4 linked regions of the Homo sapiens genome follow. The protein of the gene in region 3 interacts with the protein of the main gene of each other region in a pairwise test. Each region holds a gene or a part of one and is shown on either strand. Other genes may lie near its edges.

What was found. Proteins that work in one complex are often made in the same cells at the same time.
Region 1: the proteins of RIDA (region 3) and SPEN interact in a two-hybrid assay, tested with the Homo sapiens proteins (one large-scale study listed by BioGRID and IntAct).
Region 2: the proteins of RIDA (region 3) and DEAF1 interact in a two-hybrid assay, tested with the Homo sapiens proteins (one large-scale study listed by BioGRID and IntAct).
Region 4: the proteins of RIDA (region 3) and TMEM176A interact in a two-hybrid assay, tested with the Homo sapiens proteins (one large-scale study listed by BioGRID and IntAct).

The regions. Positions count from the first base shown.
Region 1 is NC_000001.11:15,934,707-15,937,831, reverse strand, and holds part of SPEN (msx2-interacting protein), read right to left. Parts: coding exon 1,566-3,125; intron 670-1,565; coding exon 187-669; intron 21-186; coding exon 1-20. UniProt on the Homo sapiens protein: May serve as a nuclear matrix platform that organizes and integrates transcriptional responses. In osteoblasts, supports transcription activation: synergizes with RUNX2 to enhance FGFR2-mediated activation of the osteocalcin FGF-responsive element (OCFRE).
Region 2 is NC_000011.10:688,723-692,222, reverse strand, and holds part of DEAF1 (deformed epidermal autoregulatory factor 1 homolog), read left to right. Parts: intron 1-624; coding exon 625-722; intron 723-3,500. UniProt on the Homo sapiens protein: Transcription factor that binds to sequence with multiple copies of 5'-TTC[CG]G-3' present in its own promoter and that of the HNRPA2B1 gene. Down-regulates transcription of these genes.
Region 3 is NC_000008.11:98,107,172-98,110,671, forward strand, and holds part of RIDA (2-iminobutanoate/2-iminopropanoate deaminase), read right to left. Parts: intron 1,581-3,500; coding exon 1,475-1,580; intron 1-1,474. UniProt on the Homo sapiens protein: Catalyzes the hydrolytic deamination of enamine/imine intermediates that form during the course of normal metabolism. May facilitate the release of ammonia from these potentially toxic reactive metabolites, reducing their impact on cellular components.
Region 4 is NC_000007.14:150,799,450-150,803,568, forward strand, and holds the start of TMEM176A (transmembrane protein 176A), read left to right. Parts: upstream 1-1,319; 5' UTR 1,320-1,379; exon of another isoform or gene 1,380-1,483; coding exon of another isoform or gene 1,484-1,519; intron 1,520-1,543; exon of another isoform or gene 1,544-1,911; intron 1,912-2,086; coding exon of another isoform or gene 2,087-2,101; coding exon 2,102-2,275; intron 2,276-2,765; coding exon 2,766-2,876; intron 2,877-3,265; coding exon of another isoform or gene 3,266-3,370; exon of another isoform or gene 3,371-3,950; coding exon 3,951-4,007; intron 4,008-4,119. Other genes in the region: TMEM176B (transmembrane protein 176B), read right to left, coding at 162-169, 573-775.

The DNA.
Region 1 (3,125 bases), on a different chromosome or scaffold from region 3:
TGCCACACGATGGGGTACTTCTGCTCACAGGGAAACAAACAGGAAGTGAGCTCATGGCCCCTCGCTGAGCCATGCTGGACACAGCCAGAGGCTGTAGCTTGTGGGTCTGTTAACTAGGGAATCTTAGGACATTTGACATGGCATAAAACTTGGGGGCCAGGAAGGGCAGCCCCTGCTCATGCTTACCTTCAGAAGTTGAACCATATCCACGGGTCTCTGGGAAGTCAGGTGTGGAGAGGAATCTTGTTTGGGGGCTGGCTGGAATTCAGTGTGTGGCAGAACCAGTCCTGGTGGGGTGCTGGGGCCAGAGGTTGTTGGGACAAACAACGGCTGTTTTGGGGCAGTCTGAGTGGGAAGAGAGACTGGAAGGTCAGGCTTCATGGAGACAGACACAGGGGAGGGGAAGGAAGTCGGGCCTGTTTCTGCTTGTGCCCTCTGAACCTGGGTGTGAGGCTCAGGTGGCCTGTTTGCAGGTCCAGCTGGGAGGCGAGGCTGCTCTACTCCCGTCTGGGTCCCCTTTGCCTCCTGGGACACTTGAGGCATCTTGCTGCTTGGTGGCTGGCCGGGCTGACCGAGCTGGGAGGGCGGGCAGGGTGGTGCAGGCTGGGCAGGCTGTGTGGACTGCACAGGCTGAGGAGGCTGCAGGGGCTCACCTTCAGGAGGAGGGCCCTGGTGTAGGGAAGGAAGGCAAAGGGACAGAGTCAGTCTGTTGTGCACAAGCCCCTGAGACCAACAAATGACCCAAAGGGCCACAGGGAAAGGATAAGATGTGGCATCTCCCGTTAAGTCAGGCCCACAGAAGGAGCCTGAATCAACGGAGCTGCTTTCGGGGTTCCAGGTAAGGAGAGATCCCCTATTACCTGCCTCCTGCTGATGCTACCCAGCAAGAGCTCCCTCCCCATATGCAGAACTCCCCATGATGTGATCTAATACTTTCATCTCAGAACTAAGAAAGCTCTTTAAACTCATGAAAAGATCAACATCTTTAGGGACTAGCTGACCAGTTCACTTGTACTCAACCACTATCTTTACCAAAAGGCGGATTTCTTTTTCTTTAAGTAGGGACAGAGTTTCACCATGTTGGCCAAGCTGGTCTTGAACTCCTGACCTCAAGTGATCTGCCAGCCCTGGCCTCCCAAAGTGTTGGGATTACAGGCGTGAGCCACTATGCCCGGCTTTTTTTTTTTTTGAGACTGGGTCTCGCTCTGTCACTGGAGCCTAGTGGCACGACCTTGGTTCAATGCAACCTCTGCCTCCAGGGCTCAAGCAATTTTCCCACCTCAGCCTCCCAGGTAGCTGAAACCACAGGTGTGTGCCACCACACCTGGCTAATTTTTGTAATTTTTTTTTTTTGTACGAGATGGGGTTTTGCCATGTTGCCCAGGCTGGTCTCGAACTCCCGGGCTTAAGCAGTCCTCCCATCTGGGCCTCCCACAGTGCTGGGATTACAGGCATAAGCCACCACACCTGGCCCCTGATTTCTTTCACACATCTTGGCTTAAAAGCCTGCTGAGCCCCACAAGCACATGCCCAACAGACAGTGGGGAGATACCTGGCTGGCTCACCTGAGCAGCTGTCTTGGTCCGGGAAGGCAGGCCAACAGAGGAAGCGGCGGGAAACTGAGTGTGTGTGAGCTGGGCCGGGGGGTGGTAGGTGCGGATGTCGCCGTACCGGTACTCTTGAAACAGCTCCCCGCTGGAGTGCACAATCTGCACCCCATGGGTCACCACCACAGGAGGGGTCAGAGGCAGCCCCTGGAGTTGGTTACTGGGGGTAACTGTGAGGATACGGGCCTCACCATGAGGGGCAGGAGCAGGGGCAGGAAGGGGGACAGGGACAGGGACGGGGGCAGGGGTGGGGGTGGGGGCAGCTTTGGCATCTGGTGTCTTGGCAGCTTCCTTCCCTGGCTGCTGAGGGGCCTTGCTGGCTGGTGGCACCTTCACCACCCCATCCGCGGCCCTGGGCTGCTCGCTGACTGCCGTCACATGTGGATGCACCATGATCCTCACATCCCGTGGCACAGTATAGGGGTGCAGTCGGTACTCAGACTGCATGACTAGTACCTCTGACTGCACAGGGGCTGTGGCTCGAGCGACAGGAAGGTGATAATGCACTTCCTCCTCGGGAGGGTGCTGGGAGGCCAGTGCAGGCACACCAGCTGGGGCTGGCTGCGGGGTGCTGGCACGCTGTGGGGCCCTGACCTCTATTTGCTGGGGCTGCAGCGGAGCCCGAGGAGAGTGAAGCGCTTCTGGCCGGATGCTGTAGGTGATACTGGGCAGCGTGGGAGTGTTCATTCTCACCTCGCCCTGGGAGAGGTGGCTCAGGGACACAGTCTGGGTGATGCTGTGGGGTGGCATGATGACAGACTGCTCTGGGTGGATGCTGGAGATGAACTGGGGCACTGGGATGCCTGCAGCCAGCATGACTGTGGCGTTGGTGGAGAGCGCCGTAGATGCAGTACTGCTGGGGTGGCTTGCCCTTGGGAATGAGGATGGCCCGGGTCCACTTGGTCGAGGAGAATGAGCATCTAGCTTTGCAGCTGCCAAATGGGAGACAGTTCGATCTGCTGGGATGCTGGGCCCCGAGGGGACATGGTTGACTTCTGTAGGCAGTTTGCTGGGCAGAGCAGGAGGGTGGTGGGGCGTGAGCGTGGACCCCAGGTTGGCCGGCTGAAGGACCTTGGTCTCGATTTTAAGGGTGACGGGGTCAGCAAGCTTCTTGTTTGTGGTGACAATGCTTGGGGTGAGGACCAGCTGGTTGTGAACCAGCACAGGGGGTGTGTTGATCCCCTGGGTGAGAACCTTCACTGTGCCTCCCTGGGTGACAGGCGTGGACACCGAGAGGTGAATGGGCTCGGGCTTCTCCAAGGATGGCCTATCGGCCTTCACAGACGAAATCACAGGAGAGGCATTATATGTCTGGGCGGTCAGTACCAACGTGGAATGGGTGGCCACGTTCGCATAGCCTGCAGGAGCTTGAGGGCCTTTGGATGGAGGCTGCGATGCTGTGACAGAATCAGGTTTGACCTGGGACTTGGACACTGACTGCTGAAATTCAATGTCCATTGCACTGGCCGGGGGGATCTGGCTGATCTTGGCGCTGATCCGCTGTGGGCCTTCGGTCTT
Region 2 (3,500 bases), on a different chromosome or scaffold from region 3:
GAAGGGCCTGTCTGCATGCCAGGGGGCTGAGTTCCATGTTGTAGGGGGTGCGGTGGGGTGGCACCAAGGGACATAGGCAGGTTAGATGTACTTTTTAGGAGGAAGGGGTCAGAGACCAAGGGCAATGGCTGTGAGCATGGGGCCGAGGTCACCTGACGATGGTGGCCTGACCCCTGCGGTGGAGGAGAGGCAGGAATGGAGCTACAAGAGTGGGTCCAGGAGGTGTCCTCACCTGCGGGGAGGCCGAGAGCTCCTCGTAGGCATAGGGCACACCTGACCAGCAGAACCCACAGCTGTGCCGCAGAAGGAGATAGAAGCCCCGTGGTGGTTTGATAGAGCTGGGGCTGGCTGGGGTGGCGGGTTTGTTGTATGCATTTTTTACTGCACGTAAAAGGCTTTACTGGGGAAGAATAGATTTCCTCTCTTTTTCCTGGAAGAGCCGAATGACTTAGACAATGGAATAGAAATGTAGGTCGAGCGTGTTCATGGAAGTGTTAAGATCTTCCTGGTTACAAGGGCACACACCTGAGGGGGAGTCACTTTGTTTGAAGCACCTGAGCGAGGCTGTTCGCTTTGTCCATTCTGGCTTTTGTTGCTTGTTAAATGAGGCTCCTTCTGTTGCAGAGGTGACCACAGTGACAGTGGCCAACGTGGGGGCTGCTGCAGACAATGTCTTCACCACGTCTGTGGCGAACGCGGCATCCATCTCAGGACATGTTCTGGTAAGCTGCTCCGAGGGGCACAGCCCAGGGCGGGTGGTGCCACGCTGGGGGCCTCCGGCTTCCCCGAGGCTCTCCCGGGGTTCAGCCCGCTGTGTGAACGTCTGCTCTGTGAGCTGGGGAGGGACGCACTGGCTCGCTCTGCTCTCAGAGGCCTTCGGGCTGTGCTGGAGGTGGGAGAAATTACAGCTGAGGTAGAAGCTGCCTCGGAAGGCCAGGTGAAGAGCCACACCTGTCAGATGGGCTTGTGGCCTGCGTTGGGCAGGGACTCCCAGCAGGCTGCTGTCCGGCCACAGTTCAGCCTCTGCCCGAGGCCCGGCCCTGCCTGTGCTCCTTATCCTATAGCTGCAGGGCCAGCTGAAAGAAGCAAGGCGTTTCCCTCCCCCATATCCTGTTCTCGTAGCATTTATGGTGCAGTCTCCCACGCCTGACTGCTGTCTACTTAGAAAACTGCTGAAAGCCAGTTGCATTTCAAATAGTGTCTGTGCCACCTTCAGAGCCCTTTTGTGATCATGTTTTATCAGCTTATTTTATGTTTTATGTGTGGGGCCTTCGGCGATCTGGGGACATCTGGTCAACCAGGGCAGGCAACCTTGTTTCCAAGTGGCAGATGCCAGGGTGGGTCCAGTCTCCAGAAAGGGATTTTCCCTGGGACCATTGGCACCTGTTACTTGTAGTCTTTTCAGCCTTGGTCACATACCTGGGACATCATCTCCATATACCTGAAAGCAGAGTGGTTATTTGTTTGTTTTGTTTTTGAGACGGGGTCTTGCTCTGTCACCTAGACTGGAGTGCAGTGGTGCAATCTCGGCTCATTGCAACCTCCGCCTCCTGGGTTCAAGCCATTCTTGTGCCTCAGCCTCCTGAGTAGCTGGGATTACAGGCGTGTGCCACCATGCCAGGCTAATTTTTGTATTTTTAGTAGAGACAGGTCACCATGTTGTCCAGGCTGGCCTCAAACTCCTGACCTCAGGTGCCCGCCTTGACCTCCCAAAGTGCTGGGATTATAAGGATTATAGGTGTGAGCCACCACACCCGGCCTGAAAGCACAGTTATTGTTAGAATGGCAGCAAACAGAAAACTTGTGAAGGACTTCAGTAAAAACATAAGAAACTTGGAAACCCCCTCCCCTGCCCTCCCCTCCCCTGCCCTCCCCTCCCCTGCCCTCCCCTCCCCTGCCCTCCCCTGCCCTCTCCTCCCCTCCCCTCCCCTGCCCTCCCCTGCCCTCCCCTGCCCTGCCCTCCCCTCCCCTCCTCTCCCCTCCCCTCCCCTTCCTTTTTGACAGAGTCTTTCTCTGTTGCCCAAACTGGAGTGCAGTGGAGTGATCTCAACTCACTGCAACCTCCACCTCCTGGGTTCCCCATGTTGTCCAGGTAGTCTCAAACTCCTGACCTCAGGTAGCTACCATCTCGGCCTCCCAATGTGCTGGGATTACAGGCATGAGCCACCGCACCCAGCCCAGAAACTTGGCTTATTTCTGGTGGGTGTGAGAACACACACAAGCTGACCCATGGCCACGTGGCGATCTGTGTTTTCAGTCAGGCTGCTCCTTCCTGGCAGTGGGGTCTGGGCACCTCCTCATTTCCTAGGAGGGGCTGAAGCCCAAGGCACCTGTGGGTGCCTGGAACGTGCTGACGTCATGGAGCGGGGGTGTCCTGCAAGTGCCTGAGGCTGGTTTTCTCCCCTCCAGGCCAGGAAGACCAGAGACTGGTGTGTTCCTGTTTGGAAACTGACAACAAAGCGGGGCACGGTCTGAAATAACTGTGTGTTCCCTTCCTAAGAAAAATACTCTGTGACTCTTAAACAAACACAAGACATTCCTTTTCTCCAGTGAAGAGCTGCAGGTCTTTGGTGACTCAGGCACAGCAGTAGGACCCCCTGTGTGAGCCCAGGCGTCAGGCATGTGTGTTGGGGGTCCCTCCACTCCATGATAAACTTCTACTCAAGTGCTCTGATTTGACAGTGACATTTTCAGATGTAGGAAACAGTTGTCAGCTGGGCGCGGTGGCTCCTGCCTGTAATCCCAGCACTCTGGGAGGCCGAGATGGGCAGATCATGAGGTCAGAAGATGGAGACCATCCTGGCTAACACGGTGAAACCCCATCTCTACTAAAAAAAAAAATGCAAAAAATTAGCCTGGTGTGGTGGTGGGCGTGTGTAGTCCCAGCTACTTAGGAGGCTGAGGCAGGACAATAGCGTGAACCCGGGAGGCGGAGCTTGCAGTGAGCCGAGATGGCGCCACTGCACTCCAGCCTGGGTGACAGAACGAGTCTCCGTCTCAAAAAAAAAAAAAAAAAAAAAGAAAAAGAAAAAAAGAAACAGTTGTTTTCTCACTTTGCCTCGGTTGGTTTTGTATTCAGAATGAAAACCTTGGGGCACCCAAAACACGGGGTTCAGAGAGGCCCCTGGAAGTCTCTGGTCTGCCCCACCGTGGGGTGAACAGAGCCTGCAGGCCAGAGTTTGCCGGATGACTTGGCCAAGGTAGGGTTCAAGTTCCAGCAGTGGTGTGTGGGCATGGAGACTCTGGCTTCCTGTGGCGGGGTCTGTGCCGCCTGAAGGCTGATTTTGGAAGCAGGCAGCAGTTGCAGCAGCTTCAGCCAGTGTGGAAATGTGGTTTTGAGGCCCTGGTCTCCAGTTGCCATCTGTAAGGAGGTCTGGAGGGCGGTCCTGCACAAGGCCTTGTCTGTGGCGGCCAACTCGGTCTGTTGGAAACTCTGCATGAAGACGGTGACCTTGTGGGAGCGGCTCAGGTGGAAGGGAGGGTGTTTCTTGTTTGTGGAG
Region 3 (3,500 bases):
TTGATCTAGCATAATTTATTCAACCAGTTCTTTATGAGTGGATATTTAGGTTTTTAAAAATCTTTCAGCTAGGCCGGGTGTGGAGGCTCATGCCTGTAATCTCAGCACTTTGGGAGGCTGAGGTGGGTGGATCATGAGGTCAGGAGATCGAGACCATCCTGGCTAGCACGGTAAAACCCCGTCTCTACTAAAAATACAAAAAATAAGCCAGGTGTGGTGGCGTGTGCCTGTAGTCCCAGTTACTTGGGAGGCTGAGGCAAGAGAATTGCTTGAACCTGGAAGACAGAGGTTGCAGTGAGCTGAGATCACGACACTGCACTCCAGCCTGGGCGACAGAGCAAGGCTGTCTCAAGAAACAAAACAAAACAAAACAAACTTTCAGCATTATATGACTCAGTAAATGCAGTAAATTATAGTTTATTGTTTTATTTTATTTTATTTTTTGAGACAGTGTCTTGCTCTGTGTCCCAGGCAGGAGTGCAGTGGCACGATCTTGGCTTCCTGCAACTTCCACCTCCCAGGTTTAAGCGATTCTTCTGCATCAGCCTCCTGAGTAACTGGGACTACAGGCATGTGCCACCTGACTGGGTTACTTTTTTTTTCTATTTTTTTTTTGAGACAGGGTTCTTGCTCTGTTGCCCAGGCTAGAGTGGAGTGGCACAATCTCAGCTCACTGCAACCTCCGCCTTCCGGGTTCAAACGATTCTCATGCCTTAGCCTCCCGAGTAGCTGGGACTACAGGCACATGCCACCACACCTGGCTAATTTTTGTATTTTCAGTAGAGACGGGGTTTCACCATGTTGGCCAGGCTGGTCTTGAACTCCTGACCTCAGGTGATCTGCCCGCCTCGGCCTCCCAAAGTGCTGGGATTACAGGTGTGAGCCATTGTGCCTGGCCTCCCCCAACTAATTTTTGTATTTTTAGTAGAGATGGGGTTTCACCATGTTGTCTAGGCTAGTCTTGAACTCCTGACCTCAAGTGATCTGCCAGCCTCGGCCTCCCAAAGTGCTAGGATTACAGGTGTGAGCCACATCGTGCCTGGCCTAAATTATGGTTTAATTATATTTATTGGATTAAAATTATATTCCCCATTCTTATTTTTAAAAATGTTGACTTTTTACTTCTGTGGTGGTAATTTTTTTTTTTTTTTGAAGAGGGGCAGGTCAGTGGCCCTGAGAAGAAAATTTCCCAATCCATGTGGAAGTGGCAACATGTCATCTGACGTCAATAATTCAGGTTTAAGGTCACCTTAGTGTTAAGGAGGTGGAATCTCTCTTTTGGTTGTTAGATGATTCATGATCCATCAAATTTCCAACTCTTAGATCAAAAACTATGTTAAATCAAGCAGTAAGTAGTTTAAAAAACATTTATCTGTTAATCTCTATAAAACAAATCAGGCAAGTGGATTCTTAATGCTCTTCAACATTAAAAAGGTAGTAGAAAAGGGAACCTTAAATGTGGAAAATAACTTACTTGTTTAGCTTCTTCTGCTACCCCTCCTGACACAAGCTGTCCACTTGAAGGGTCCATGCCTATCTGTCCTGAAATGTAAATGGTCCTGTCGACTAATACAGCTTGACTGCAATAAACAGAAAGCTAGTGTATTTATGTAAGTATAAAACATAAAATTCAATGCTAGAAGACTTTTTTGATAGGACAGAGAAGTATAAATTGTAAAAAAAAAAAAACAGATACATTGGACTTCATGAAAATTGAAAACTTTTGTTTATCAAAGATATCTTTAAGAAAATGAAAAGGGGCTGGGTGCTGTAATCCTAGTGCTTTGGGAGGGTGAAGCAGGAGGATCGCTTGGGACCAGGAGTTTGAGATCAGCCTGGGCAACCACTCAGTCTCTACAAAAAACAATAAAAAACAGCCAAGTATGGTGACGCACACCCGTAGTCCCAGCTACTCAGGAGGCTAGGGTGATTGAATTGCTTGAGCCCAGGAGTTGAAGGCTGAAGTGAGCCATGAGTATACCACTGCGCTCCAGCCTCAGTGGCACTGAGTAACAGAGAAAGACCCAAAATAAAAAAAGGGGTCGGGGGAAGAAAAGGCAAGTCATAGATTGGGAGAAAAATATTTGCAAAACATATACCTAATAAAGTACCTATATCCAGAATATAAGAAGAACTCTTAAAAGTCAATAATGTGAAGACAAACCCAATAAAATATGAGCAAATGATACTTCACAAAAGAAAATATACAAAGAGTTAGAGTACATGAAATTTGCTCAACATTAGTAGTCATTAGAGAAATGCAAAGCAAAACCACACACTAAGACATCACTGATAAAGTAAGCATTGGCAATGATGGGGAGCAACCCTCATACATTGTCGGTAGTAATGCAAAATGGTACAGCCACTTTAGAAAATAGTTTGGCAGTTTCTTTAAAAATTTAAACATATATTTAACATACAACCCAGCAAACTCTTCTTTTAGAGACAGGATCTTGCTCTGTCACCCAGGCTGAAGTGCAGTGGTAGGATGTTGGCTCACTGAAGCCTTGACCTCCCAGGCCCAAGTGATCCTCCCATCTCAGCCTCCTAAGTAGCTGAGACTAAAGGTGTGCACCACCATGCCTGGCTAATTTTTTATTTTATTATTTACTTATTTTTATTTTTTGTAGAGATGAGGTCTTGCTATGTTGCCTAGGCTGGTCTCAAACTCCTGGACTCAAGTGATCCTCCTGCCTTGGCCTCCCAAAGTGCTGGGATTACAGGCTTGAGCCTCAACTCAGCAATTTCTTTCCTAGGCAACTATCCAAGAGAAATGAAAACATATGTCCAAAGAGTTTACGTGAATGTTCAGAATAGCATTATTTATAGCAAAAAAGCAAGACACACACACATGCACCCACTGATAGATCCAACAAAGGACTATATATTGTCTTATTTCACTTAAATGAAACCTTAGAAAAGAAAATAGCAGCAGCAGATTATTAATTGTTGTCTAGGGCCAGGGGTGATCATAAATGGGTACAAGGGAATTTTTTGGGAGTGATAGAAATATTCTAAAATTTGACTATTATAGTGGATGCATGATTCTATACATTTACTAAAACTCATGGAACACTACACTTAATTAAAATGGGTGACTTGTTTTTTTGAGATGGAGTCTCACTCTGTCACCCAGGCTGGAGTGCAGTGGCACAATCTTGGCTCACTGCAACCTCCGCCTCCCGGGTTCAAACAATTCTGCCTCAGCCTCCCAAGTAGCTGGGATTACAGGTGTGAGCCACCACGCCCAGCTAATTTTTGCATTTTTAGTAGAGATGGGGTTTTGCCATGTTGGCCAGGCTGGTCTTGAACTCCTGACCTCAGGTGATCCGCCTGCCTCCGCTTCCCAAAGTGCTGGGATTACAGTCGTGGGCCACCACACCCAGCCATTAAAATGGGTAACTTTTATAAGTAACTTATACCTCAATATAGCTGTAAAGCAAAAAAATGCAATTTCAAGAGCACTTTTAAAAACATAAGTAGTCATCTTCAGACAAGAT
Region 4 (4,119 bases), on a different chromosome or scaffold from region 3:
AGAATCAGCTTGCCTGGCTCTAAAATAAATCCTGCATAGGCAATTCTAATGGACATCCTGGCTAAGTATCACAGTTTAAATCAAATATTATTAACAATTCTAATAACACCTCCCATTCGTACTCTACCTACTTTTCAAAGCAGTTTCACTCTTTCACCCACCTGGCCTCCTTGGGGTTAGAAAGGACAGGAGTTAGACAATTCCGCACACGTACAAAGGAGCTTCAGACTGCTTCCAGCCCAGCCCCAGATTCCAGCCAGACCTTCCCTTGACGGCCCAGGCCTCGCCCTGAGGGCACCTCGGGTTCCAGCTACCTCCGGGCCCCCAGGACCACCGCTTCCCCCGCCCCACGCCAACCCCTAGATCTGCCTCGCCCCCGCCTGAAGAGTCGGATCTGAACCAGGCCGGCACCACGGAGATTCCCCTGCGGGCCGCCCGACGCCTGGTAGGTGGTGGGCTCTTCCCGGCTGCCCCGAACACTTTCCTCTGTCCAGCTCTTCCCGTGCCCCGGGGCTGGGGAAAGCGTCCGGCAGCCCCGCCGCTCCCTGGCCCCGTCCCAGGAGCCACCCCACCGTAGGGCTCCAGCCAGGGTCCAGGCGTGCAGGCGGCAGAAGGTGGACGGGACGCGCCAGCCCCAGGCCTCTCCTCCCGCTCTCCAGCCGTTTTTCTGGGGAGAAACACCTGCACCCAGCTGTCCCTCCCTCCTACGTGAGTCCTCCTGGAAACCAGGTTGGAGGAAGAAAGACGTCCTGTGGACAGGACGGGGTGGGGGCATGGCCCTGGGGACTCCTCGTGACAGAGGGTCCTGCGGCAAGAGGGTCTCCCGGGCCGCGGAGGCCCTGCCTCACCTGCAGTCCTCCGGGAGCCCGCGGCCGAGCAGAGCGGACACTAGCTGACCCCGAGCAGGGGAGCGACGGGAGGGCGGAGACGGCAGATGCACGGGTGGGGGCTGCGGCCCCGCCCAGGCTGCGCGGTTTCCCGAAACCAGCTGCGGCCCGGGGGCCCGGCAAAGGGGGTTCCGCCCGGAGGAGCGGACCGGGCGGGAGAAGACCGAGCCCCCGCGCGCCCCCTGCGCTCCCACTCGCGCACACTTGCACGCCGGCCCTGGCCGGGCGGGGCTGGAGGCGAGAACGACCCCACGGGCTTTCCCAGGGCCGTCCGCCCGCGGACCCTCCCAGCTCCCCAGAGCCCAGTGACCCTCGCGCAGCAGGAGAACCCCAGACGGACCCCAGGCCCTGCAGCCTGTCATGAACCCGAGGGGCTGAAGTTCAGCCCCACCCCCGCCTCCCCTCCCCGCCTCCCCCTCCAACTCTCAACCCACTTCTCCAGCCAGCGCCCCAGCCCTCCCGCCGCCCGCTCGCAGGTCCCGAGGAGCGCAGGTGAGGCGGCACCCCACTCCCGGCGGCCCCCGGGCCTCCTTCCGCACGCACCCCGAGCTGCCTCCGCACAGTTGGAGGAGCGTAGGAGGGACCCCCACCCAGGGATGACACTCCAGGAAGGGGACTGCAGAGGAAGCCAGGTGCGGCCCCGGCTTTTGACCTACCTCCGCACCGCAGCGCGGTCCTTCACGGGGCAGGGGCGGCGTGAACCCGTCGGGCGTGAGCAGCAGTCGGTGGAGCGGGAGGTCGGCGGTGGCGGGGATGGGGGTATCCGGAGCGCAGCCGGGGCGCAGCTGCTGGCACAGGAGCTCCACAGGCAGCCAAGGACTCGGTCCTGTCCCAGAGCCTGCGGACTGTGGAGGGGAGGCCGCAGGAAGAGCCCGGGAGGAGGGGGTGAGGGGTCGAGGTGTGGGGCGCTGCTTGACCCAGACGCCAGGGCCCTGGGAGGAGGATGAGGGGGACAGAGCAGATCTTGGGCGAAAGGGGAGGTTCCCGCAGGCTCTGTAGTCGCCGCAGTTCCAGCATGGTCAGCACCCCCTCTGCTACACACATTCCCCTCGTGAGGGGCCAGGGGTGCGGCCCTGTGACCAGGACAGCCATTCATTGGGTGACTTTGAGCCACCACTGGCCCCTGACCTCCCCAACTCCAATGAAATCTGCGAAAATCTTCTGACAGCCGTTCCTCTCTGGTGCTCCCTTCCTCATAGACTGTGTCCCTGACAATGGGAACAGCCGACAGTGATGAGATGGCCCCGGAGGCCCCACAGCACACCCACATCGATGTGCACATCCACCAGGAGTCTGCCCTGGCCAAGCTCCTGCTCACCTGCTGCTCTGCGCTGCGGCCCCGGGCCACCCAGGCCAGGGGCAGCAGCCGGCTGCTGGTGGCCTCGTGGGTGAGTGTGACGGCCTGCCTCGTCGGGCGGCGGGAGGAACTCCCCACCTCCAGCCGCAGCAGCACTCTCTGCCAGCCTCCCTCTGAACAGGACACCGAGCCAGTTATGTCTTCTTACTTAGCGATGTGATTCTCTGGCCTTCTCAGTAAGAGCCTGGGGAGGGGAGGCTCTGGGCTGAAGGGGTGTGGAGGAGCCACTGACCATGCAGAGTCCCAATCAGTGGAGCCCTGAGTCCATCCTTTCCTCTGGGCCAAACTCAGGATGGGCCGGCTCTCCTCTCCTTCCTTTCCCTTCTCTTTTCTCCTCCTCCTGCCTCTTCTTCTTTCTCCTTCTCCTCCTCTTTCTTCTCCTTTTCTCTTCTCTTCTCTTCTCTTCTCTTCTTTCTTTCTCTCTCTCTCTACCTCTCCCTCTCTTTTTGGGGTTTTAGCGGTTAATCCCTGCAGTGGCAGGTCCACCTAGGAGCCGGGATCTTGGGTCCTTTGTCTTTCAGGTGATGCAGATCGTGCTGGGGATCTTGAGTGCAGTCCTAGGAGGATTTTTCTACATCCGCGACTACACCCTCCTCGTCACCTCGGGAGCTGCCATCTGGACAGGGGCTGTGGTGAGTAGAGCAGGACAGTGCTTGACTGCCTGTGAGAGGGGTGGGGCATTGCTCTCCTGATTGCCTTCCTCCAACATGGCGCCACAGAATGCTGGCAGTCGGAGAGATCTGATTATCTAGGACCATTCCCTGCCTGTTCAGATGAGCAAACAGCTGAGGGCGGTGGTGGCATGTCCTATTCACACTGTCTGCTCTCCCATACCCTTCCCAGTGCTGTTCCCACCAGGCTGGCTGCCTCTCCCTGCCTTCAACAGTTAATGTCAACTAAGGATCTAAGGACCTGCTCATCTCCAGATACTTGCATTGAGATGGGGAAGGCAGAGCGTTCCAGATAGTATGTGGTCCCCCAGGAAGCATCACCCCCTGGTTATTCTCATTGTCCTCCACAGGCCCTGTACACAATGGAAACCCAGGAATTGTTGTCAACAGATGGGTGTGTGCAGTTTGCACAGGAGCTGGGTAGGCTGGTCATGGTACCTACACTCTCAGAATAGCACTAAAACACTCATATTTACTGACAGAAGCCGAGAGTAATTACCTTCACCCAGCCTGTGGCAAAATACCCAGCTTAATTACAGAATTAGCCAAACAGGATTCAGGTCCACCTGTCCACTGGGACATACTAGATTTCCTGTTCTTCAAGCCCAGCTGAGTGGATTATTGGGCACTGTTAGGACAGGCTTCTAGACCTAACAGTGCCCACTCTGTATAGACTCACCCTTCATTGAGATCTTCTCCAGCACCCCATGACTTTTATCCACAGGATCCCACCATCCCTAGAACTTTCATAAAGCACTTGGTGTTGTTTAAAAAGGAAGGTTTAGAAGGGAAGAGGGGCTCACACCTGGCTTGACCACAAGCTCTTAGGTGTCACTAAAGCAGGGCCTTTTGCAGCCTCAGGAGTTGGATCCAGGCTCCACCCTCTCAGCAATTATCTTACCATGGATAATAAAGCTTAGCATGAAACCTCCCGCCCAAGCTGTGTGCTGGGGAAGGGCCTGCATGGAGGCTCTCTCGTGGGAGAGGAGTTGCATTTCCTGTACTAAGCCTGCTCCTGGCTCAATCTCTCCCCAGGCTGTGCTGGCTGGAGCTGCTGCCTTCATTTACGAGAAACGGGGTGGTACATACTGGGTAAGTTCAGGGAAGGGCATGGGAGGGGACCAGGTTCAGGCTGGAGGTCACCCCAATCTCCTGCCCTGTTGCAGGCTTCTCTGGGCCTTGCCCTTTTTTCCCCCGACTGGAC